Linked DNA regions of Homo sapiens: all the other regions are reported to be linked to region 1. Evidence: microRNA targets listed by miRTarBase, many of them from high-throughput screens and not tested one by one. Region 1 holds a microRNA gene; each other region holds the end of a gene's coding sequence. Distances are between the middles of the regions.

Region 1 (3,377 bases):
CATGTGAGAAGGCACCAGGAGTGGGCTAATTGGCAGAAAGGAACAGTGTATAGGCAAGAGCAGTGAAATAACTTTAGGGGAAAATAGTATGTTAAGCTTATTAAATAACAGCCTCATAGAGACATTGGGTCCCAAAACAGTGATCTCAGTATAACTGTCAACAACTTGCTGATGTTATCAGCCCTATTTGCTGGTCAGAGACAAAAAAGCCAGTAAAAACCTAGGTATTATTAAGAAAGGTATGAGGCACAGAAAAATGCCATCTTATCTTTGTATAAAACCATCTGAACCAAATAACTATTACAGTAATAATCTTGCCTCAAGGAGTCTGTTACTATCACTCACATGATTTTGAAAAGGGAGTGGGCAGAGTGTGTTATCTCTCTGTTTCATTTTTCTTGTTTATAATACATAGGTGAATTAGATATTCTCAAAGGTCTTGGAGGGGTCTAATTCTGGTTTCCTGAAACTGAATGTTATTTCTAGTTTAGAGAATCTGTTTAATTATGTTTATTAAATAAACTTTTCTAACTTATTCCTACTCTGATCTGTATATTATCTATTTTGTATTTAATAACATTCTAACTTTTTTTTTCCAGTGAAGGATGAGGATTATTGGATTTAGAAGTGCCAAATGAGCTATTACTTACTGCTTTTTGCTATCCGGTTACACTGGGTTAATCCAGTTAGTTGTAAGCTCCCATTTTTCAGCATTTTGCTAGCTGTAGATATTAAACCAGGCTCATGTGGGTAGTAGGGTGGGGAGGTTAAGAGGAGTATAAGCAAAAAGGAAAAAAAAAAGCTCATATTTTAGAGGAGGGGATTGAGAAGTTCCTTTATTGGAAGTCTGTGCATGGAAGTCCCATTTTACATCATGCCAGTGTCTAGTTCCCAATTCCGTCTATGGCCACGGGTTAGGGAAAGCCTGAATATTTGAAATAACCGAAAAGCATTTAACCTTTGATTTCTATAATTTGTTCCTCACCTCTCTTGATGTTACAGCCAGCAGCAGCCTGGAGCAGCACCCCCTGGGAAGAAATTTTACATCGGCCATTATAATACAACCTGATAAGTGTTATAGCACTTATCAGATTGTATTGTAATTGTCTGTGTATATGCCTGTCTCTCTTCCTGTTATCAGTTAGACTGTGAGCTCCTTGAGGGCAAGGAAGGTGTCTTCATCTCCAGAGCCCAGCCTGGCACATTAGTAGGCCTCAGTAAATGTTTATTAGATGAATAAATGAATGACTCATCAGCAAACATTTATTGTGTGCCTGCTAAAGTGAGCTCCACAGGCTCTGGATTGTCAGCTGTTTCTTCAAAAAGCATGTGGTCAGAAATTTGATATTTCTGTATATATCTTCCTAAGAGTTTCTCATGAGACAATGCCATTTTTGTGTTTGGATTTCAGTCCTTGATATTTACAGATGTTGCAACTGTTGCTATTGCTGACACTTGCTTTCTTGGTGGGACTTGAGTGATAACTGTTAGATTGGGGCCTCATCCTCAGGGCCCAGGTAATCATCCAAATAGTATTCTTAGATAGGACTTTGCATTTTTCTTTCTTTTTTTTTTTTTTTTAAGGGACAGGTTCTCACTCTGTTGCCCAGGCTGGAGTGCAATGGTGCGAACACGGGTCACTGCAGCCTCGAACTCCTAGGCTCAGGTGATCTTCCACCTCAGCATTCTGAGTTAGGACTATAGGTGTGTGCCACCACCCCTGGCTAATGTTTGTATTTTTCGTAGAGAAGGGGTCTCGTTATGGTGCCCAGGCTGTTCTTGAACTCCTGGACTCAAGCGATCTACCTCCCTCAGCCTCCCAGAGTGCTGGGATTACAGGTGTGAGCCACTGCACCCAACCAGACTCCATATTCTAAACCAAGGGTGGGCAAACTTTATTGCCCATGGGCTACCTGTTTTTGTAAATACCATTCTATATTGGAACACAGCCATGTTCATTCATCGATGTTTTACCTGGGGCCGCTTTTGCGGCCCAGTGGCACAATTAAGTAGCTATTAGGTTGGTGCAAAAGTAGTTGCTGTTTTTGCCATTAAATATATTGGAGACATTGTGGCCCACAAAGCCTTTGTAGAAAAAGATCTGTGCCCACTCTGGATCATCACTCGACAGTGATGGTTTCATTTCTCATTCCATTCACCAGACCAGAAATTCATATTTATTTACTTCATTTGTCATTGCTTGTGACAAGTCTTTTTCCTCTTTTACAGATAAGCCAGCTAAGACATGTTTTAAAGTAGAAGATTATAAGACCTCCCCCAGGGTCCTGCAGTCAGTCAGTTATACCCTGCCCTTCAACATCAAGCTTTGAACCTCTACTCTAGAAATACCTTTTATTATATTCAAACTTGAAGCACGTGGACATAGCATGCTTTGGTGCCTTCGTCCTTGCCCCCCTCCTTCCTACACAGTTCTTTGCAATGAGAATATGGGAAATAAGGACTTAATGTGAGATAAGGCAGAAAGGTAAGCTGAGGCAAATGTTTAGAGGGTCCCTAACACTAATTTTTAAATGAAGAAGTGGGGTGTCTGAAATACTCATTTATTTAGATGTATACAGATAGTGAGCCTAGACTTCCAAGAGCTTAGAGCCCCTCCCCTTGTGCCTCCCCAACTTTACATGTACTATCTTGGTAACCTGCCTATGAATACATGTTGATTCATTTCACTTCATTAAAAAGTCGGAGAGCTCAAAGTCATATTTGAGAAAGCTAAATCTAAAACAAAATGGAGGAAACACTGAATAGGTTCATCTCGTTGGATAGGATCATCCTAGGAATAAAATATAATAGAAGGAAAGGTCTTACAGCCATATTTTTAAAGCTGCTTGCTGGATTTTTCCCAAAATTGTATTGTGAAAGTTGTCAAACATACATACAGAAAAGTTGAAAGAATTGTACGGTGAAAAGCCATGTACCCAACACCTAGATTTTATAATTAACATTTAACTATACAGTCATGTGTTGCTTAAAGACAGGATATGTTCTGAGTAATGGATCATTAAGTCATTTTGTTGTTGTGTGAACATCATAGGGGAGTGTACTTATACAAACCTAGATGGTATAGCTTACTACACACCTAGGCTATATGGTATAGCCTATTCCTCCTAGGCTACAAACCTGTACAGCATGTTGCTGTATTGAATACTGTAGGCATTTGGAATACAGTGGTAAGTATTTGTATATCCAAACATATCTAACATAGAAAAGGTACAGTAAAAACGTGGTGTTATTATCTTATGGGACCACCATTGTATATGCGCCTGTGACTGAAATGTTACTATAAGATTCAGGACTGTTTGTGTTATCACAGTAACTCATCTTTGTTGAATAGGTTTTAAAAATCTGTCTGTCTTCTG
Region 2 (3,000 bases), not on the chromosome of region 1:
GACGCTCAGAGGCTGGCAATAGGGGCTGTCAATGAAAAAACCACCTACAGTGGAGAAAAGAGCAGAGAAGCAAAACTTCATGTTAATCTCAGGCAATTTGGTGAAGCCAAGAGCTTCATTTATATTTCTCTGCTCTTTCAGCTGTAAGTGGAATTTTCATTACAAAATGGAAGGGTGGGAAGGGCAACAGGTGGGGGGACACTTAATTCATTACAGAATTTAAACAGTTGAACTTGCATGGTTACCACTTCTAACAAAGGACTGACAGCTCGATTATTTTAAGTAAAGCAGAGAAATGTAAAAGTTTGCAGCAACTGGGCAGGTTTACAACATGGTTAGTAACTTCCAACAAACAACAAAATTAAAAAAAAAAAAAAAAGACTTGGTAGAAACCATTTGAAATGACTGCCATCATGTTGGAAAACAGCACAGCTCCCTTTTCACCATTACAGAGCGCGTGAGTTATGAAGCAGAGTCAGCTACTTCAAAAGAATTTTCTAACGAGAAATATCTAGAGATTCCAACGTGGAATCCAAATTTGATGACCAATTTCAAATAACAATACAGCCGCAGCTGCCAATTAATAGTATTCCAAAGACAATGAGGACTACTGTAAAGATTTAATTAATAAAAACTGGACACTATCAGCCATGCTTTTTCTTCTCAGTGATGGCTCTGTTTCATCCATAGGTCAGCAAAACGCATCAATGAAACATGAAAACTCCCAGCTGAAATGGGCCCTCTTGTTTATGTCTAGCCACTAATGCACAGGATGAGAATGATAAGTTACAGCTATTTCCAGCAAGTGATGAGGTTTTATTAAAGTATCACCCACCACTAATAAAGACAAAAGACCAAGGAGAAGAAACAAACTAATCATTGTGTAATATATATCTGAGAAGTGACACTAACATTTGTTGTACATTGCCCATTTCACCTTTATTTAGTGGTCCCGAAGGAATTTGGTACATACATTTGCCATATTTTGTGAAGCCCATTCTCATGGATGGGCCCTGTCAAGTTCCCAAAAGCAGAACTGAATAGGGAAAATGAAAGCTAATTCATACTAAAAACAGACATTTTTAAGACATGGTGCCTTATAAATATTGACAGGGGACCACACTGCTGCTCCTTCATGGGGGTGAGTACCTTAATGAAACCATTGACCTAGTAACATCATTGGCTTTCCAAACAAGGTGAGAATGCAAGTGGAGGACTTAGGTCTGCACCCTTTACAGAACAGCACAATGTTACCCACTGATCCATTTCCACCAGCATCATCAGGTGTCTTAAAAAGAAATGCTGACCCATGGCTGAAACCTGTCACTTTTCACAGCAGCACTCAACAAGAACTGGGACAATCGAAGAGCAAGTTTTTATGGGGACCCTGTTGCTGCTTTAGATTCTGATGTAATTGAAGAGGAAAGGAGACCCTTCAATGAATCCCAGCAAAATCACTAATCTTCTATCTGCATGAAAAAAGCCAGGGAGTGAACACAATATCTTACAGAGTGAAGAAGGCCACAAGAACAAGAGAGGGTGATTGATTGATTAATTTATTATTTTTAAAAACTTGGAAATTCATAAACTAGGATAATCACATTCTCCTTCCCCATCTCTGGGTAGTGCCATCATTTTAATAAGCAATGCTCAAATAACAGAATGGAACCTTTATCATGGGGATGGCCCTTGTACAACAGGAGTACAAAGGGCTTACAAAGTGAGTAGACTGGCTCAAACTAACAATCACCTTTGCTTTGTTTTAGCACTTTGCTTACAAGTGAATGGGCTTCTAGGGCTAAGTTATTAGTTTTCAATTCCTTGTAATTTGATACCAAAACATATCAAAAATAATAAGCTAAAACAATATTCAAACCCATATTTTATTGGCTTTATTACACACTTCAATATTTACAAAGTTAAAGTTAAATGAAAAGTCTCTATTGTATTAAAAAAAATAACTACAGCCCAAATTAAAGTGCCCTGGGGCAAATACATATCAATCAACTAAGAATCAGTGACTGCATCAGGAACCAGGCAGTACTCTGTGTTACAACAAAGCAGTTTATTTGTGATCAGTGTTTGAGACTCTATACATCCTTCACAAATTTAATTTTACATAATCTGATACGTCTCTTAAAACTTAAACTTTGAACTGCTAGACTTTTATTTCCCTAGAACAGAAGGGCTGGTATAAGTTATTTTCCAGAAATGAGGTACCGTTTTCACAGAACTGGTTTCTTTTTTTTTTTTCAAGTTTTAGAGAACTAAATTTGCATTTGTTAAAATCAAAAAGTAGGAAAGATGTTCTTTACAAATAATTTTGATCAAGTATGTGTTCAAAGAAAGCAGGATAAAAAGGCTTTTTCTCTAACATTCTGTGTTGTACTGTATTGTTGTTCAATAGGAATTAGCTTCTGTCATTTGCTAAAAGAATGAGTAGTGGGGAACAGGATATGTTGGAAATTTCATAACGGGTAACAGAACCATTCTCTTGGGTAAACCTACAGAGAAAAGAAACGGAGAGGACTCCAAATAAGTTTTAATACTCCAATAAAAATTTCAGGTAAAAAAATATCTGACAGTAATTATCATTAACCTTTTCCAGATCAGTCAGTCAACATGTATACCATTTTGCAAGAGGCCCATAAATCGCTCACAGATCTATTTTGAAATTGCTCTTAATATTTTGATAAATAATATTTTCCACTCTCAAAATCAGGATGGCTACATCTAGGAAGCAATTTCATTGAGTGAGCTACCATGAATTCTGAAAATCAAAAGCAATGCTATTGAATCATGTTCTAATCGACTGTAGAAATCCATATTGGTTCTCAATGTGGCATATCACATATTCCAGGAGAAACGGGTTGTCAAGGTTCAAAGCATAGCTTTCCATGCAGACCTCAGCTCCAGCTGGAGCCATGGCCAGGCGTTTACTTAACTTCTTAATGGCTATGGCCAATATTGGCATGGCAAATCTGGAAAGATTAATTACTT
Region 3 (3,377 bases), not on the chromosome of region 1:
AATAACTTAAAGTTGCTGTGTTCTCTAGATGTCCCCAGTGTCCTAGACAGCACCAGTTAAGAACAGTGAGTGTTTTTTAACTGGGACTTCTTCCTGACCCTGAATTTTACTTGACTTAGTTTTTCCTCTTTCTCTCTTCTAATTCACAGAGCAGTAAAGAAGCCCTTTCAGAGGTGAACGCCACGGGAGTGGCCATGCTTTTCTCTGCCGGGACATTTCTTTATGTTGCCACAGTACATGTCCTCCCTGAGGTGGGCGGAATAGGGCACAGCCACAAGCCCGATGCCACGGGAGGGAGAGGCCTCAGCCGCCTGGAAGTGGCAGCCCTGGTTCTGGGTTGCCTCATCCCTCTCATCCTGTCAGTAGGACACCAGCATTAAATGTTCAAGGTCCAGCCTTGGTCCAGGGCCGTTTGCCATCCAGTGAGAACAGCCGGCACGTGACAGCTACTCACTTCCTCAGTCTCTTGTCTCACCTTGCGCATCTCTACATGTATTCCTAGAGTCCAGAGGGGAGGTGAGGTTAAAACCTGAGTAATGGAAAAGCTTTTAGAGTAGAAACACATTTACGTTGCAGTTAGCTATAGACATCCCATTGTGTTATCTTTTAAAAGGCCCTTGACATTTTGCGTTTTAATATTTCTCTTAACCCTATTCTCAGGGAAGATGGAATTTAGTTTTAAGGAAAAGAGGAGAACTTCATACTCACAATGAAATAGTGATTATGAAAATACAGTGTTCTGTAATTAAGCTATGTCTCTTTCTTCTTAGTTTAGAGGCTCTGCTACTTTATCCATTGATTTTTAACATGGTTCCCACCATGTAAGACTGGTGCTTTAGCATCTATGCCACATGCGTTGATGGAAGGTCATAGCACCCACTCACTTAGATGCTAAAGGTGATTCTAGTTAATCTGGGATTAGGGTCAGGAAAATGATAGCAAGACACATTGAAAGCTCTCTTTATACTCAAAAGAGATATCCATTGAAAAGGGATGTCTAGAGGGATTTAAACAGCTCCTTTGGCACGTGCCTCTCTGAATCCAGCCTGCCATTCCATCAAATGGAGCAGGAGAGGTGGGAGGAGCTTCTAAAGAGGTGACTGGTATTTTGTAGCATTCCTTGTCAAGTTCTCCTTTGCAGAATACCTGTCTCCACATTCCTAGAGAGGAGCCAAGTTCTAGTAGTTTCAGTTCTAGGCTTTCCTTCAAGAACAGTCAGATCACAAAGTGTCTTTGGAAATTAAGGGATATTAAATTTTAAGTGATTTTTGGATGGTTATTGATATCTTTGTAGTAGCTTTTTTTAAAAGACTACCAAAATGTATGGTTGTCCTTTTTTTTTGTTTTTTTTTTTTTTAATTATTTCTCTTAGCAGATCAGCAATCCCTCTAGGGACCTAAATACTAGGTCAGCTTTGGCGACACTGTGTCTTCTCACATAACCACCTGTAGCAAGATGGATCATAAATGAGAAGTGTTTGCCTATTGATTTAAAGCTTATTGGAATCATGTCTCTTGTCTCTTCGTCTTTTCTTTGCTTTTCTTCTAACTTTTCCCTCTAGCCTCTCCTCGCCACAATTTGCTGCTTACTGCTGGTGTTAATATTTGTGTGGGATGAATTCTTATCAGGACAACCACTTCTCGAACTGTAATAATGAAGATAATAATATCTTTATTCTTTATCCCCCTTCAAAGAAATTACCTTTGTGTCAAATGCCGCTTTGTTGAGCCCTTAAAATACCACCTCCTCATGTGTAAATTGACACAATCACTAATCTGGTAATTTAAACAATTGAGATAGCAAAAGTGTTTAACAGACTAGGATAATTTTTTTTTCATATTTGCCAAAATTTTTGTAAACCCTGTCTTGTCAAATAAGTGTATAATATTGTATTATTAATTTATTTTTACTTTCTATACCATTTCAAAACACATTACACTAAGGGGGAACCAAGACTAGTTTCTTCAGGGCAGTGGACGTAGTAGTTTGTAAAAACGTTTTCTATGACGCATAAGCTAGCATGCCTATGATTTATTTCCTTCATGAATTTGTCACTGGATCAGCAGCTGTGGAAATAAAGCTTGTGAGCCCTCTGCTGGCCACAGTGAGGAAAGTAGCACAAATAGGATACAGTTGTATGTAGTCATTGGCAACAATTGCATACAATTTTACTACCAAGAGAAGGTATAGTATGGAAAGTCCAAATGACTTCCTTGATTGGATGTTAACAGCTGACTGGTGTGAGACTTGAGGTTTCATCTAGTCCTTCAAAACTATATGGTTGCCTAGATTCTCTCTGGAAACTGACTTTGTCAAATAAATAGCAGATTGTAGTGTCTGGTTTGGTTTGGACAGTAGTGCTTTCTATCATATTGTTGTGTGCAATGGTAATTTGTTCTACTGGCCAAAGCCTCTTTCAGCAGTGCCTTGCCATCATGCTTAAAAGTTTGGCTAGTATATCTTGCTGGATGGAGCCTTGAACTCCGGCAAGGATTGAACCATCTGACTTCCAAATTTGCCTTCCCCTCTGGACCTCACTATTAACAAGCAAACCTTTCAGGGCCCTCTTAGCTCTCAGAAGCTATGTATGGGCTTTCCCAGATTTTAAAGCTGCTGCCTCGAGAACTACTCATTTCTCTCCTGGTCAGCAGACAGAAATAGCCATACTAATCTCATAGGGCTCAAATGCATCTTCAGGCAGCAGGGAACCAAGCAGCGTGGCACAGGCCTTCTTGACTGGAGGAAGAGCTTGCTGGCATGGTGGGCAGTATTCCAGGAGAGGCCATGTCCGTGTTCACTTCTTGGCACATTTCAGTTCCGTTTTCCTCTTGTTTAAAACTGCCTCTTTAGATGTGGATGCCTTAATGCTGTAACACATTTGAAAACATTGGCAATACTTAAGTTGCTGCCATGATTACAGATGGAATTATTGGCTACCAAAGAGACGCAATTGATGATGAGAAGCATGATTCTTGCTTCCATATAACCAAAGTTAATCTTAATTGCAATTTGACTCCGTTTCCTTGGTAGGGATAGACTTTCTTCAGATTCCAAGTGCTCTCTTAAATGGCAAATTAAGTTAAAGAATACTACTGCTCCATTCCCCTCACTTATTCTCCAGTTAATTGCTTGTCAGTTCCATTTCAAGAAAGCAGTGATGTTCCAGGTTTGATTCAGTTTTCCTGTGCACACTATTGCCAAATTTTTTTTTAGCAAAGATTCTGCACTGGAACGTAGACAGTTGGAAACAGTACTACCTACCTAGAGGTTATGTGTTTTCTCTTTCTCCCCGCTTTCACCTCTTTCTTTCCCAATTCAAAACAGCCAAGTGAGCCCTGTTCTGGTATTTTGAATCATTAGAGAAAAGAAAGGGAGTG
Region 4 (3,377 bases), not on the chromosome of region 1:
CCTAATTAAAGCTAATTAAGCCCCTGGAAAGAACCAGAAAATACTACGTAAATGCTGAGTATTTATGTGCCGCTAACAGACACAAAAACTCCCAAGGGACAAGATTCTGTGCCGACAGCACATTCTCTATTGGTGATTACTAATCACCCACTGCTTACAAAGAAAGGCACTGTTTTCAGTAACAGGGTAGTTTAAAAAAAAAATCACACAATGTTGTTCAACAACACCATCTTTATTCAAAAATATATATCTATGAGACATTTCAGAATATACTGCTGCCGCCAACGACAGCCTATACTTCTAAATAGTCCTAAATTAATATACAAATTTAAGCTTTGAAAATATTCTTTAAGAAAAACAAACAAACAAAAACAAGGGAAGATTGAAGACTTTCTGAGGAATATGACCTAAAGGAAAGGTCCTTTGAGGCCTACAGATGCCCTAAGAAAGAAAAAACACAAAAACAAAAACCACCCACCCCACCCACCAAGTCACCTCATACATACAAGGAGGAAAGTTCATTTAAATTAAACAAATGAAGTAAGCACACTTTGGGAGGATGTGGACAGCAGAATTAAGATTTAAAAAACGAAAGCATTTCATCAAAACAAAAAACTAACTTCCTCACAGGAAGTCCACTAGTAACAGGTATTAAGAGGCCAACACATTCATTTACATAATTGCTACAGTTTCATTTCTTAACTTTTGCTGTAATAATTATGCACCAATTGCTGGTCAGAGACTCAGTTGGATAAAACAGAGCAGTGGGCTAAATCCATTCTGCTATATTTTCATCTAGTTGATCAGAGCAAATATCTACGATCCTCTTTTGGCTGGATTGTGGCTGCTCAGATCGCACTTCCTTGGTGAAAGCATAGAGTGTCCCAGATGGGCCTGCTCCAAAACACGCTCATCTAGAAAGCAGCACACCACGGGGGGTGGGGGAGAGGTTGGGGAGTGCAGCAGCAGCAAAGATTACAATTTATCTTGCAATTTTAGTGATGTCACCTATGGCCTCTGGAAGAAAAACCTTATAGACTCATTAATTTAACAGTGACAGAACGACAGGCAGTGTCCATAAGCAAACAACACACAGTCTGAATTCAAATCTGAATAACAGCTCAAACACTACTAGGTTCTACACAGAGTTAAACTGAGTATCTGCTATGACTTTTCATTGTTCTCACTTCATGACAAGCAGGAGAGCTTCTGGAAGGGAAGCCCGTTATGCTTTATAAACATAGGTTATGTTTCAATGTGTTTAACATGTAAAATTACATGTAATTTTTGGTGATCCTGGAAGTAGCAACACAAATTAATGGAGATTACAAAGCCCCCTCCACTGAATTCCTTTTTATATAGTTTGGGTTTCAGCCTCTGGTCTATAACTCCTATTACACTACTGGGGCAAATCGCTTTCTGCCCTTTCCAATGTCAAAAATAAGCCTGCCAAATTAGAATGATTTACAATTGGCAGGCTGAACCTTTACTATAAGCAAGATAAAAATTGTCTCTAACTACATTATATAGTCATAATGTCAGCTGACATGATAATAGAATTAAAACCCCCAATTAATATCCCCAACTCCCCGCTTCCCCTGCCCGAGACGAGCTATTCAATAACATCTGACGCAAGTACTCCCCGTCGTGTGGGGACAAGGACCTGTGCAGTGGCGTGACATGACAGACGGACCTGCTCAGCGTCCTATTTGCAGTGATGTTCGAGTTTAGCCACCGTACTGTGGACATGCACCCAGACAGCGGATTAAACGTTAGTGTGTACCCTACTCCCAGAAGAAAGGGTCCAAGAAACACCCACACAGATCCCAAATGCAGCACACCTGTGTGTGGGGCCTTCATCTTTTGGAGCCCACCAATGCCTGCCATCCCTAACAACTGCCTTCGCACCCACCAGGGATCAAGGCATTCTGTTTTTCGGAACGTGCTCCGACAGTGGAGAAGTGCAGCATGGGAAGGTTGTATCTAGGAACTTGAAGCAAATAAATTCCTTTTAATTCATGCTTGTGATCCCTGTTATTCTGTCTCTGAACTGTGCCTTTATGCTCCAGATTAGCTTTGAATCTTATTGCTAGATTCTCCAATCTGTTTACAAAATAAATGCACCTAATCTTCGTGCATCACTAGGAGAAGCAATGGAAAGGGAGGATCAGAGATTTGGCAAACTCTTTATGGCAACGCTACGACAGCTGTGCCTACAACCTTTTGGGGCAGATGCAGCTGGGAAAGCCAACGTCTCCAGGACAAGTGCCTTAGTGGAAGCCCACACCGAACTTGAACAAGCCCAGCCCAGAAAGGAGAAGCTGCTTTCATGATAAAATGCTGTCATGAGGGACAAGATTCTTTCGAAAGCTTCCAGAAGTACACATGATTTTCATAACTTCTTAGGTATAAGGAGACAGTTAAGAATGGAAAACCAACAGGGGGGCATGAAAATATGAAGTGGGAGAAAAAGTCTGTAGTCTTTGCAAATATGAATATAAACCAGATTCCAGTCGCCACTGTTCTGAACTGTGCTCAAGATGAGAGGCTGAAGAGGAGAATCAGAGTCTGAGGTTCTTTCTTGAGGCTGGGGGGCTGGGCGGAAGAAGGGATAGAACCAGGGGCTAGAAGGTTATTTCCAACCATGACTTGCCCTCTTCTTTCTGCTGGTACAAACAGAAATCTGGGACATGACACCCATCCTAGTCAGTTGAAAACAGGTCCCCAGCAGAGGGCAGGGGGGCTAAGCCCCCTGTGACGTTGGGCAGCAGTGAGAGGTCTGGCAAGCTCTGAATATGGGATTTCAGTTCCTTGCGGACCTGGGTTACTCGTGCAAGCTTCTGTTTGTATTCCTAAGGAGATAAAGAGAAGACAATACCGTTAAGTCTGTGCGTGCCGAGGGCATGGGTGCTGCTGGAGCCGGGCAGCTACTCTCGTCCTCGTGTTCTTCCTTGTCCCCACCAGCCTGCCCACCCTGTTCAGCTATATCACAAAGCTAGGGCTTCAAATGCTCAAAAGGCAAAACTTTCTATCAAAAAAGGAACGCAGAGTGCCATATTGGCAACAGTGAATTAAATGGTATTCAATTTAGGGCTTGAGATTTGGAAGTAGAAAGAAATAACACTTGGTATTTGCATTCTCTTTTTGTTGGTTCTCAAAAGTTTCAAAATGCTTTATAAAATAAAACAGACACCTGAGCCTCACAATTTCTTTGCGGACTCCACCTAGATATGGCAAGAAAAAAAACACTGAAGTTATACTTCCTATGTTAAAGCTTGGAGATTAACCTAAATTTATCATGTTTTGCAAACAAGCACTATAGAAGCTCAAAATACCCCACTGCTACTCCCTGTGACCAGGGCCTCCTCATTCCATAA
Region 5 (3,377 bases), 25 Mb from region 1:
TTGTATCCTTACATTTTACTATGAATATATTACAAATTTACATTTTAAACATGCATAAATGTGTATATAATGTGTATATGTGCAAATATGTAAATAATTGTATATGTAATACTGATAGATCGCAGCATCCCCAGGGCTCCAAATTCTTCTAACACGCCCACCCCGCCAGAGGTGATTTTTCTGCACATCGACGTTCTCGCACTGGGACTCAGAGAGTCTGGGTTTCAGAAACCCCCACCTTGCGGAGCCTACGGATTCATTCCCCGCATGCTCATTCCTGCACGCAGGGCCGCCAAGGCAATGGGCGGGGTACCACAGCCGAGCCTTGTCTCCCTGCAGGTGTTCGGCTTCCTGAACCTGGTGCTCTGGGTCGGCAACCTGTGGTTCGTGTTTAAGGAGACAGGCTGGGCCGCCCCGTTCCTGCGCGCGCCTCCCGGCGCCCCCGAGAAACAACCGGCACCCGGGGACGCCTACGGCGATGCAGGCTACGGGCAGGGCCCCGGCGGGTACGGGCCCCAGGATTCCTACGGGCCTCAGGGCGGCTACCAGCCTGACTATGGTCAACCAGCCGGCAGCGGTGGCAGTGGCTACGGGCCTCAGGGCGACTATGGGCAGCAAGGCTACGGCCCGCAGGGTGCACCCACCTCCTTCTCCAATCAGATGTAGTCTGGTGAGTGACCGGCGAGCGGTGCGGCCAAGGAGGGTACAAGGAAGGAGACGAGCGGGTCAGTGAACCAATAAGAGTCAGGGGTAGAGAGTACGTAAGGCGTTTACTGGGGCAAGTAAGGACTGAAGTTTGAAGGAGCCAATCAAGAGGCAGAACTACCTGCTAAGAGCTGAAAAACTAGCTAATGAATGGAGAAAAGAAGAATGGTGCTTCAAGATGGACAGAATGAAGAGCCAATGGGAGGGAGGTAGAAGGGCAACTCGGCGGAAAGGCGGGGGGAGAGAAGCAGAGCAACCAATAAAGGGAGGGAATATCGGGGGACTTGCGCAGTGGCGAATCAGCGGAGCGCAAGAGCCACGGAAGCGACGAGGAGGTGGGTCTTAGAAGTGACTGATAAGCCAATAGGTGATAAGGCCAATAGATGGTGAGGGTAAATGGGCGTGGATCTTGAAGGTCAGACGAGCTCACCAATCCGGGAGGAGGGGATAGATCTGCCGCCTCTCCCCAACGCTGGAGGGGAGGGAAGTAGTGTGGAATTTCAAAGGAGGAAGAGGGATAGGGTGGGGTCCTGGAAAGGTTTGCCGGCCTTCTTGCTGGGCCTTAAAAGAGAAGTGAGGGTCGGGGCTTGGTGGCTCATGCCTGTAATCTCAGCACTTTGGGAGACCGAGGCGGGCGGGCCGCTTGAGCCCAAGAGTTCGAGACCAGCCTGGGCAACATGATGAAATCCCACCTCTACAAAAAATACAAAAATTAGCCGGGCGTGGTGGCATGCATCTGTGGACCCATCTACTCAGGAGGCTGAAGTGGGAGGATCACTTAAGCCCAGGAGGTTGAGGCTGCCGTGAGCTATGATCCTGCCACTGCACTCCAGCCTGGGCAACAGAGCGAGACCTTGTCTCAAAAAAAAAAAAAAAATGGAAAGAAAGAAAGGAAGAAAAAAAGAAAGAAAGAAAAGAGGCCAGGTGAGGTGGCTCATGCCTGTAATCCCAGCACTTTGGGAGACCAAGGTGGGCAGATCACCTGAGGTCAGGAGTTCGAGACTAGCCTGGCCAACACGGTGAAACCCCGTCTCTACTAAACATATAAAAATTAGCCGGGCATGGTGGCGCACGTCTGTAGTTCCAGCTACTCTGGAGGCTGAGGCAGGAGAATCGCTTGAATCTGGGAGGCGGAGGTTCCAGTGAGTCGAGATTGCGCCACTGCACTCCAGCCTGGGCAACAGAGCGAGACTCTGTCTCAAAACAAAAAAAAAAAGAAAAAGAGAAGTGAGATTTCCCTCAGATAGGAGGGAGGATATAGGGGAGGAAAGGCAGGAGGAAAAGGCTAAGGGGTGGCTAAAAAGTGGGGGAAGGCAAGAAGGTGGCAATACTTGGATGGAGGTAGCTTCTGACACTGGGTTAGCCAGGATGGAAAGGGCATCCCACATCTAATTCATCAAAAAATCCTGTGGGTCCTACCTTCAAAAAATATATCCTTCATCTTCCACTGTCATCTCTCCCAGACCTCTTCTCAGGTCTCCATTTCCATTCTGTTCTACTCACAGCATCTGGAGGGATTCTGTTAAATCCTAAATTAGGCCACAGTCCTCCTGTGTCAGAACTCTGCCCTGTCGCAGGCTGGGCGTGGTAGCTCACGCCTGTAATCCTAGCACTTTAGGAATGCTAGACTTGAACTCCTGGGCTCAGGTGATCCTCCCACCTCAGCCTCCCAAGTAGCTGAGACTATAAGTGTGAGCGACCATGCCCAGCTCACTTTATTTTTTCCATTTCACTTATTATTGTCACCCTATGTTATACGAGATAATCCACTCATGCATCATGTTCGCTGTGTGAAGTCTATCTCTGCTTCAGTATAAGCTCCACAAAGACAGGGATCTTTGTTTTGCTCAATATAGTTTATCACAAATGGCTAGAACAGTACCTGTTAAGGGACTATTTTTTTGGTTGGAGGAAGGAGACTGTAATCTCTTTGGTACCTAACCCAGTGGGGGCAAGGTCAGGTATATCTTCTCAGCAGAGGCAGCTGGGATGAAGCTGGCTCCAGGAAAGAAGAAAAGACATAAAGCCAGGACAAAGGCATAACAGCCCAACCCCTATCTGAGGGCGCCACCCATGTCAGACCCCCTCTCCTTTCTGTGTCTTTTGTCTCTACAGGTCAGTGAAGCCCAGGAGGACCTGGGGGGGGCAAGAGCTCAGGAGAAGGCCTGCCCCCCTTCCCACCCCTATACCCTAGGTCTCCACCCCTCAAGCCAGGAGACCCTGTCTTTGCTGTTTATATATATATATATTATATATAAATATCTATTTATCTGTCTGAGCCCTGCCCTCACTCCACTCCCCTCATCCACTAGGTGCCCAGTCTTGAGTGGGCCCCCTCTCTTACCCCGTCCCTTTCCCTGCATCCCTTGGCCCCTCTCTGTTTACCCTCCCTGTCCCCTGAGGTTAAGGGGATCTAAAAGGAGGACAGGGAGGGAACAGACCTCGGCTGTGTGGGGAGGGTGGGCGTGACTTCAGACTCTCTCCTCTCTCTCCCTCCACTCCTCCCAACTCTGGCCTTGGTTCCTCCAGCAATGCCTGCCTGAACAAAGGCCGTTAGGGAAATCCAACTCCAGGGTTAAAGAAAGGCAGAGATTGGGGGGGCTTGGGGTAGAGAGGACAGTTTAGGACCCAAGGTGGTCTTGGAGAGGAGGTGTGGAGTGGAGGGGTCAGCA
Region 6 (3,377 bases), not on the chromosome of region 1:
ACATGCATTCTATAAATAAAAGGAACTAAGATTTTCTGGGAAACCATAAATTGGGAGGAATTCCCACAGTCACACCTCTGTGGTCAAGAGGATGGTCTTCAGCCCCCATCTGGCTGTAATCTCTGATGAAATCCAGAAGAGAAGGCCCGTGTGTTATCCAAGAAGGTGAAACACTCAAGGACAGTGAATGCCACAGTCCTCTGCTCAGAGCTGGGCTAGGCCCCAAGGCCCACTGAGTACAATGTCTACCCTATCTCCTTGTTACATCCTTTTTACAATATCCTTGGGTGATGCTTCTTTTCATGGGGCTATTGGAAAGGCTCCAACACCAAAGAGCCAGACCAGCCATTTACGAATAGCCATTCACCATCGGACTGAGGAACCTACTGGGAGAGTGTGAATATGTTGGTGTTTCCTGACTTGTGCTCAGAGCCCAGATCAAAACACTGGCTTGATCTTACTTTGAAACATCGACCTCAGGTGCAGCAGTGTAAATTCTACACCAGGAGGTGGGATTGGACTCAGGAAGTCCACTACAAGAGCAGCAGGCCATGGTAGAAAATGATCTGCCATACCCAGTGGCAAAATCTGGGCCAGTATCCTAAGGACCCACTCAGTAGCCCACAGACCGATTCTTAATACCTTCACAATCCAGGCTTGTTGGTGCTACTTCAAATTCACAAAAGAAAGGGGCTTATAATAAGACAAGCACTGATACACTCCTAACAGGAAATGCACACCCCACCCACCTTCCGAGTCTACCCCTACAGGCAAACCAGGAAGGAGGGAGAAATGCTGGAGCCCTACCACGAGCCCAGGTTAAACGACATCCGATATCAGATTGTTGAGACGTTAAAAATAAAAATATCATTTTCAAGTGCTTGTAGCAGAGGCCTAGCTCCTAAGTTGTAGGTAACAAAGGTACTTCCCTCTGAATACATGGCGATTGCACACACTGGTAAACCTGACGGTCCTGGGGTGGGGGAGACACCCCAGGCTCCACATTGTGCCTTTCTGAACAGGCTTCCAGGCCACCCCAGGCAGGCAGCAAAGGATAGGAAACCAAGCAGGTGGAGACTGGAGCCCTAAGACTCAGTCTTGGGTTACAGGAATTGAATCTTCTTTTAGTCTCTACTGGAAGAATTTTAGAAAACCAATTTTGGCAGCAGCAGTTGAAGGACAGCCCCACTGCCCAGTGCACTGGCAAGAGAAAATGTCCTCCTCTTTGAGTCCCGCTGTGCTACATTAGGTCCTATCCAGGGAGGAGGAAGCAATATGAAATCTTTCCAAAAGGTAAAGGTCATTTGCCAAGATTAGAGGAAGAAATATAAAATCTGTTCTTTGCAGCAGCAAGAGATTCTTTCGGCCTTTAGTTCTTTATGTCATAAAAGCCAGCTGTGCTTGAATGTAAAGGTCCACCTTGCTGGTCAGTCTGCCCAGGGCTGGAGGGAGGCCAGACTCTTGGGATTGGCGAGTGGATGGAGGAGCAGTGGAATGGCAGAGCAGACAAGGTTACCAGACCAAGCCCGCCCACAGCTGGTAGAAGGAAGCCCTGGTTAGGTTCTAGAGGTGCATATGGTCAACGTGCCCCAGAAGCATCACAATGAGGGAAATCATCCAAGAACGAGATTGATGGGCAAGTGAGAATCTGGCCAGACCTGCTGTTTCCTGCTGGTCAAAAAAGGAAGCAATGTTAGTGAGAGTGGGGAATCTGAATGAGCGCCATGGTGGCAGTAGGAGGTAATCACAGGGGCGCCTGGAGCCCCCAGCCACAGCTAGGAGCCCCCACCAAGAAGAGTGGCAGTAATTCAGCAGATAGCCTAACTCTCTACGCCTATGATTTTAAAAGTCCTCTGATGGTGGGTGAGAAGACAAACCCCATGAGCACCTTACTACAGGCCCAGTCAAGAGTGCACTGATTCCACACACACTGGGGCTCAGAGGGAACCCCCAGCTCAATGCGAGGCCTCAGGACCCTGGGATCCGAATGTGGGGTGGATACCGCCCTTCTCCAGTTAGACGATTTTCCATTTAAACATAGATTTGCCGTTAGTGTCTTTTATGCTTTTTTCTTCTTGCAAAATTTGTTCACATAAAAAAATTATTTTTCTTTCCAGTTTCTTTCAAGTGTTTCTTTGTTTAAATTTCCTTCAGTTTCTTTCAAGTATCTTTTTTTCCCTTCTGTTCTCCTGGACAGATCAAAAGGCCTCACTGAAATCCCAAAATTAGACATGGGGAAAACTTCTCTTCTCCCTGCTTACCCAGCAATGAGGACAGAATCCTTGGTGCCCCACTGTGGAAGAAGGAATGTGCCTGTGTGCAGCCTTCCACTGCTGTGGCCACACCATCTCAGGCAGGGAGAACGCTTGGGTCTGTCCTTTCGTCCCCAGCTACATCCCAGTTTCCAGCAGGCTTGGACACTGCAGCCTCCCCATGGCAAATTGGCCAGACTCGGCTGGAGAGCAAGCAGGCGATGGGGAGCATCAGATGGAAGGCCTTCTGTGAACAGCTGGCCCACAGAGAGGCGGTGGGTAGGAGCTGGGCCTGGATGGAGCCTGTGTTCATGTGGACCAGAAAACAGTTCCATGTCACCAGCTGCAGGATCCAGAGGAGCTTGTGTTCCATGCTGTGCATCTTGATGACCCAAGCCTGAAGGTCACAAGGGTGGCACAGTGGGGGAGGGCTTAAGCACCTGGAAAAACTGTACCTCCGGCGAGCTCACGTTTCGCCATCTCTTCTGGTCCACTGCCTCTCCTGAGGGACTGTTCCTGGAAGGAAGCGCCTATGTCTGTACCAGATCCCTGCCCCACCACATCCCATCCTCTGCCTTAGATGGTGAGGAGAGGGATGCAGCCCACACCGACCCCTCCCTCATGGCACGCCATGGGGGCCATGAATGTCCAGCAGTCTGTCTCTGGGTCATACATCTCCACTGAGCTTAGGTTTGACTGTCCGTCGTAGCCCCCAACAGCGTAGAGGCGCCCACAGCTGGCCACCAGGGAGACCCGGCTCCTGCGCGTGTGCATGGGGACAATCAGGCACCACTGGTCTGCCACAGAGCTGTACATCTCGGCAATGCTGAGGAAGCCAGAGCCATCGTAGCCCCCGCAGACAAACATCTTGCTCCCCAGGGAGGCGGCTCCGTGCCGGCAGCGCTTGTTGAGCATGCCAGCTGCAGGGTGCCAGGTGGCTGTGTGGTGGTTGTAGTGTTCCACCTGCAGTGGGGAGAGAGGCACAGGTACAGGACAGTCAGAGGCAAAGCTCAGTCCATGGAGTGACCGTGCAGGGCACAGCAGCCCCCCATGATGTCAAACTCCTGTGGGAGGTATGGGGACAAGGAGCTCTCCCAGTATTCCCTCTGCTGCAGGCCTGCTCTT
Region 7 (3,377 bases), not on the chromosome of region 1:
AATTATTACTCTTTAGCGTTGCTACATTTAAATCTTTCACACCACATGACAGTGCCTCAACAGGCTGCATTTAAAAAACAAAACCAAAACCAAACCAAACAGCCTAAAACTACTTCTAGAGAATGCACACCTCCCATTGATTGACACATGCATAACGATTCAGTCAGTCCCGAGGGGGTTACCTATTCAAATTGTCAAGCCGAATTAAAGTAAAACTATGCATTCAGACTTGCTTGCAATCATATTGCTGCAACTCTGATTCTGCAGTGATTAGCTCTAAAGATTCACCCCTCAGCAAGTTTTTGCCAATAATCCCAGCTCTTCCAAATTTCTTTCCTTTTGTCCAAAATGACAGCATTGCACCTTTAATGGTACTATTTTCCTATAAAAATAGGCCTCCCGGCTTTTCTTCCACCACCACACTGATTTACCCCAGTGTACCAGGACTGACTGAGGTCTTACAAGCTGTATTGTTCGAGGTCGAGCGTAGAGCAAGACAAGCTAATCAGGGCTTTCGGGAACATAGCCTTGCTCCCTGCTCCATACATGCCAGGAGATGGTGAGAAGTGATGCTTCTTCTGTGCGTTATTAATAAGCAAGCCCGAGGCACTCAAGTGCAGGTGTGGTGCCCGCTGGCCAGCCAGCCAGTCACCAAGAGTTCTTCACATCTTGGATTCCAGCAAGTCCTCCTTCTCCTAAAAAAGCTTCCGTTTTTTCCTCCTCTTGGGTCCAGAGTGGCCATGCTGAAGGGTATTCTCTGTGCTCTCCCTGAACAAGTGTGAATAAAAGCAGCAGCCAAGCAGCCAGCCCCTCACCAACATGTCCTGATTTGTATTATCCAAGTGAGGTATTTGCAAAAAAAAAAAAAAAAAAGGAAAATTTTAAGAAATTAACATCTGCCATCTCTTCACTCCTGGCTATGTTGTGCTTCATTTTACAGAACTTGCTTTCATCCCACTATCTGCAGGGATTAAGGACGTCTGCACTCAGCTTAATGAGCAACAGGCCTCGATCGACATAAAACTCTCTCAGAGACCAGTCTCAGCAAACACAGGTGGCGCCGTTGATCAACAGCACATGGAAATGTAAACTTCAATGTATTTACAAGTTTATTTAAACGACTGAAGAAAAACAGTGCTTTATATTGCTGGGATTTTGAGAAGGCTAGTTTATGAGATTTGGACCGTCTCATGAGTTCAAGCAAACACCCTTCACCATCATTTCCCCACCAGCAGTTTCCAGGCAGGGGCGGCAAAATTGTTTTCACCCCATTGTGTCTATCTCTTTCCCTAGCTCCTTCCTCAGCCATATAGAGTGTGGCTCCAGGCCTTTTATCCCCTTTTCCATCCCTCACTCCTGATGTCCTGGATAGAGAATTACAAGTCAGTAAACTCTGGGCTGGGAAACACTGGCTGGTGCTACCAAGACACTATGTAACTGTTGTCCATTCACAAAGTATTATCTACACTACATACAGAATACATTTTCCCCTACATTTTAACTGATGCTCGCTTTAGAGCAACTCCCTTTGTTTGGACAAGAAAGGAATCCCATCTCCCTGTGAGTGGAATCCAGAATCTATTAAGAAAAATCAACCTTTTCCACACAGTTTTAGTTTAATAAAAGGAAGGAAAACCCACCAAGTACATTTCATGTCGAAAGAGAAGCAAAAAATTTGTACTGCAAGTAGTCGTGTGAGTTACCTTGATTCCCAGGAAAAGAAATTTTAAATGCTGGTACATTTGCAAGTTGCAGCATCACTCATTGTACCTTAAGGACTGGCAAAGCCTTTCCAATAAGGAAGCATCCTGGTTCTAGCTTATTTTAAAACAAAGTGACAGGACACCAACTGTGAATATAAAACAGGTAAAAATAATTCTTTAAAAAGGCATGGAAATATATGTCTTTTCTGACTGGTTTCAGAAATTGCCAGATTATGATATATAAGAAATAGCTGATAAAATCATACTGAAATCTCATCTAGAAAACTACATTGTTGGGGAAGGAAGAGGAGAGACCTTAAAAAATGTTTATTGCCAAAGTTAAGTTTCTATGAGAAAAGTTTAAAAATCATTTAGATTTAACAAACCACACAGCAGCATAAAATGGGCACTTTTGAAAACTTGGAAAAATACTAAAAGCAATTTTTTTTTCCAAATAGGGGAAACATGAGTACTTTTATCATGGCAGTGTTATCTCCGTCACTGTGACATGCATTACATCTGTTTATGTCACACATTCACAAAAGTCGACCAAATAAGAGAACTGCCTATTTGAATCTGCAGCCAAATATAGTGCAAATTGCCTGTCAGCATGTACTTGCACCAGCACAAGTCTGCAGAGATCAATAAGATAAAGTAGTAAAACTAATAAAACTCTGTAAAACTTTCAAAAATTAATGCTCATTAAAGGCATTTACAGTGGCAAAGTCAGAAATCTTCATTAAAAAGTCTATGGACCCACACAATTAAATAGTTACACTGAACTGAAGTAGATTGTTTGGTTTTTCTCTCCCACTTATGCATATACCCCACTCAATGACTACAGAAAAAAGGAATAATCTTCTCTTCTAAGACTAGAGGGATGCGGTGAACACCACAGCTAGCAAAATATTCCATAGAAACCCTTCTTGTAAAGTCCTTTAGAAAGTTCAGGCTGATCAGCCTTTGCACATTGAGGTAAAAATTCAGTCCAGTGCATCAGAAAAGATAATCTATTAGTATCTATTACTTTAAAAAAATGGCTCAATTTTGTTGACGCATCAGACAGTGCTGCAAAGTATAGATTCAGTGCAACTATTCCGAGCTGCTGGTAGAAGACCACCTGAAGTCAACGTGGCTCGATCTAGAGGCGGTAGGCATTTGAAACATTTTGAGGCTGCATGGGGTGCCAAATTGGTTGAGTTCTTTTTCTGAGACTCTCAGGCAAAATACATCGTGTGCTGGGTATCATGGTGGATTTGCACAGCCTTAGCCAAGGCCTGAGGATCCCGGCCGTTGCTCTGTCCTGACACATGACTGCCTTCCGCACTGTAAAGAGAATAAAACAAAACAAAACAAAGCAAAACAAACAAACAAAAAACCAAAAACAACAACAACAAAAAAACAAAAAACAGGTGTAACAGAAGACCACTTCAAACTTCACACGTTTCAAATAGCACAAACAGTACTAGATTCTAGAATATCTTAGGCTTAAGCTTTAGCTTCTTGAATAATTTGTTATGTCCTTCTAAATATCAGTTGACTCAACTGAATTTCTTTTTTTTTTTTTTTTTTTTGAGACAGAGTCTCGCTGTCTCCCAGGCTGGAGTTCAGTGGCGCAATCTCGGCTCACTGCAAGCTCTGCCTCCCGGGTTTACACCATTCTCCTGCCTCAGC

Evidence for each region. Region 1 holds the annotated microRNA hsa-miR-545-3p (UCAGCAAACAUUUAUUGUGUGC, at 1,253-1,274, shown strand). A microRNA usually pairs through its seed, bases 2 to 8, with sites in the 3' UTR of a target mRNA and lowers its output. Matches are read on the target gene's strand: a 7mer-m8 pairs with bases 2 to 8, a 7mer-A1 pairs with bases 2 to 7 and ends in A, and an 8mer does both.
Region 2: the mRNA of STRBP is a reported target of hsa-miR-545-3p. Seed matches in the 3' UTR shown: 7mer-m8 at 1,447-1,453 and 8mer at 692-699.
Region 3: miRTarBase lists SLC39A9 as a target of hsa-miR-545-3p. Seed matches in the 3' UTR shown: 7mer-m8 at 1,578-1,584.
Region 4: the mRNA of RPRD1B is a reported target of hsa-miR-545-3p. Seed matches in the 3' UTR shown: 7mer-m8 at 967-973.
Region 5: miRTarBase lists SYP as a target of hsa-miR-545-3p. Seed matches in the 3' UTR shown: 7mer-m8 at 2,931-2,937.
Region 6: miRTarBase lists KLHL18 as a target of hsa-miR-545-3p. Seed matches in the 3' UTR shown: 7mer-m8 at 1,046-1,052.
Region 7: the mRNA of AGO4 is a reported target of hsa-miR-545-3p. Seed matches in the 3' UTR shown: 8mer at 1,042-1,049 and 7mer-A1 at 292-298.

Annotation. Positions count from the first base shown.
Region 1 is chrX:74,285,023-74,288,399 of GRCh38, reverse strand. It overlaps MIR545 (microRNA 545), which reads left to right and starts at 1,191; the gene lies at 1,191-1,296. The region is part of intron 1 of FTX (FTX transcript, XIST regulator); the gene reads left to right. MIR374A (microRNA 374a) reads left to right here and starts at 1,043; the gene lies at 1,043-1,114. LOC124905199 (a long non-coding RNA gene) reads left to right here. Exons shown (of 2, transcript XR_007068266.1): 2 at 1-535.
Region 2 is chr9:123,123,170-123,126,169 of GRCh38, forward strand. It overlaps STRBP (spermatid perinuclear RNA binding protein), which reads right to left. Exons shown (of 19, transcript NM_018387.5): 19 at 1-2,504. The coding sequence ends at 2,428. Among named protein-coding and RNA genes, the nearest start is that of MIR600HG, 9.2 kb to the left of the region's middle.
Region 3 is chr14:69,458,214-69,461,590 of GRCh38, forward strand. It overlaps SLC39A9 (solute carrier family 39 member 9), which reads left to right. Exons shown (of 7, transcript NM_018375.5): 7 at 150-3,377. The coding sequence ends at 380. Among named protein-coding and RNA genes, the nearest start is that of PLEKHD1, 25 kb to the right of the region's middle. RefSeq lists a silencer at 2,075-2,124.
Region 4 is chr20:38,089,201-38,092,577 of GRCh38, reverse strand. It overlaps RPRD1B (regulation of nuclear pre-mRNA domain containing 1B), which reads right to left. Exons shown (of 7, transcript NM_021215.4): 7 at 214-2,852. The coding sequence ends at 2,703. Among named protein-coding and RNA genes, the nearest start is that of RPRD1B, 57 kb to the right of the region's middle.
Region 5 is chrX:49,188,726-49,192,102 of GRCh38, reverse strand. SYP (synaptophysin) reads left to right here. Exons shown (of 7, transcript NM_003179.3): 6 at 340-670; 7 at 2,821-3,377. The coding sequence ends at 666. Among named protein-coding and RNA genes, the nearest start is that of PRICKLE3, 4.0 kb to the right of the region's middle. RefSeq lists an enhancer at 871-940 and a silencer at 1,780-1,859.
Region 6 is chr3:47,343,393-47,346,769 of GRCh38, reverse strand. KLHL18 (kelch like family member 18) reads right to left here. Exons shown (of 10, transcript NM_025010.5): 10 at 1-3,215. The coding sequence ends at 2,829. Among named protein-coding and RNA genes, the nearest start is that of PTPN23, 36 kb to the left of the region's middle.
Region 7 is chr1:35,853,149-35,856,525 of GRCh38, reverse strand. It overlaps AGO4 (argonaute RISC component 4), which reads right to left. Exons shown (of 18, transcript NM_017629.4): 18 at 1-3,029. The coding sequence ends at 2,921. Among named protein-coding and RNA genes, the nearest start is that of AGO1, 28 kb to the left of the region's middle.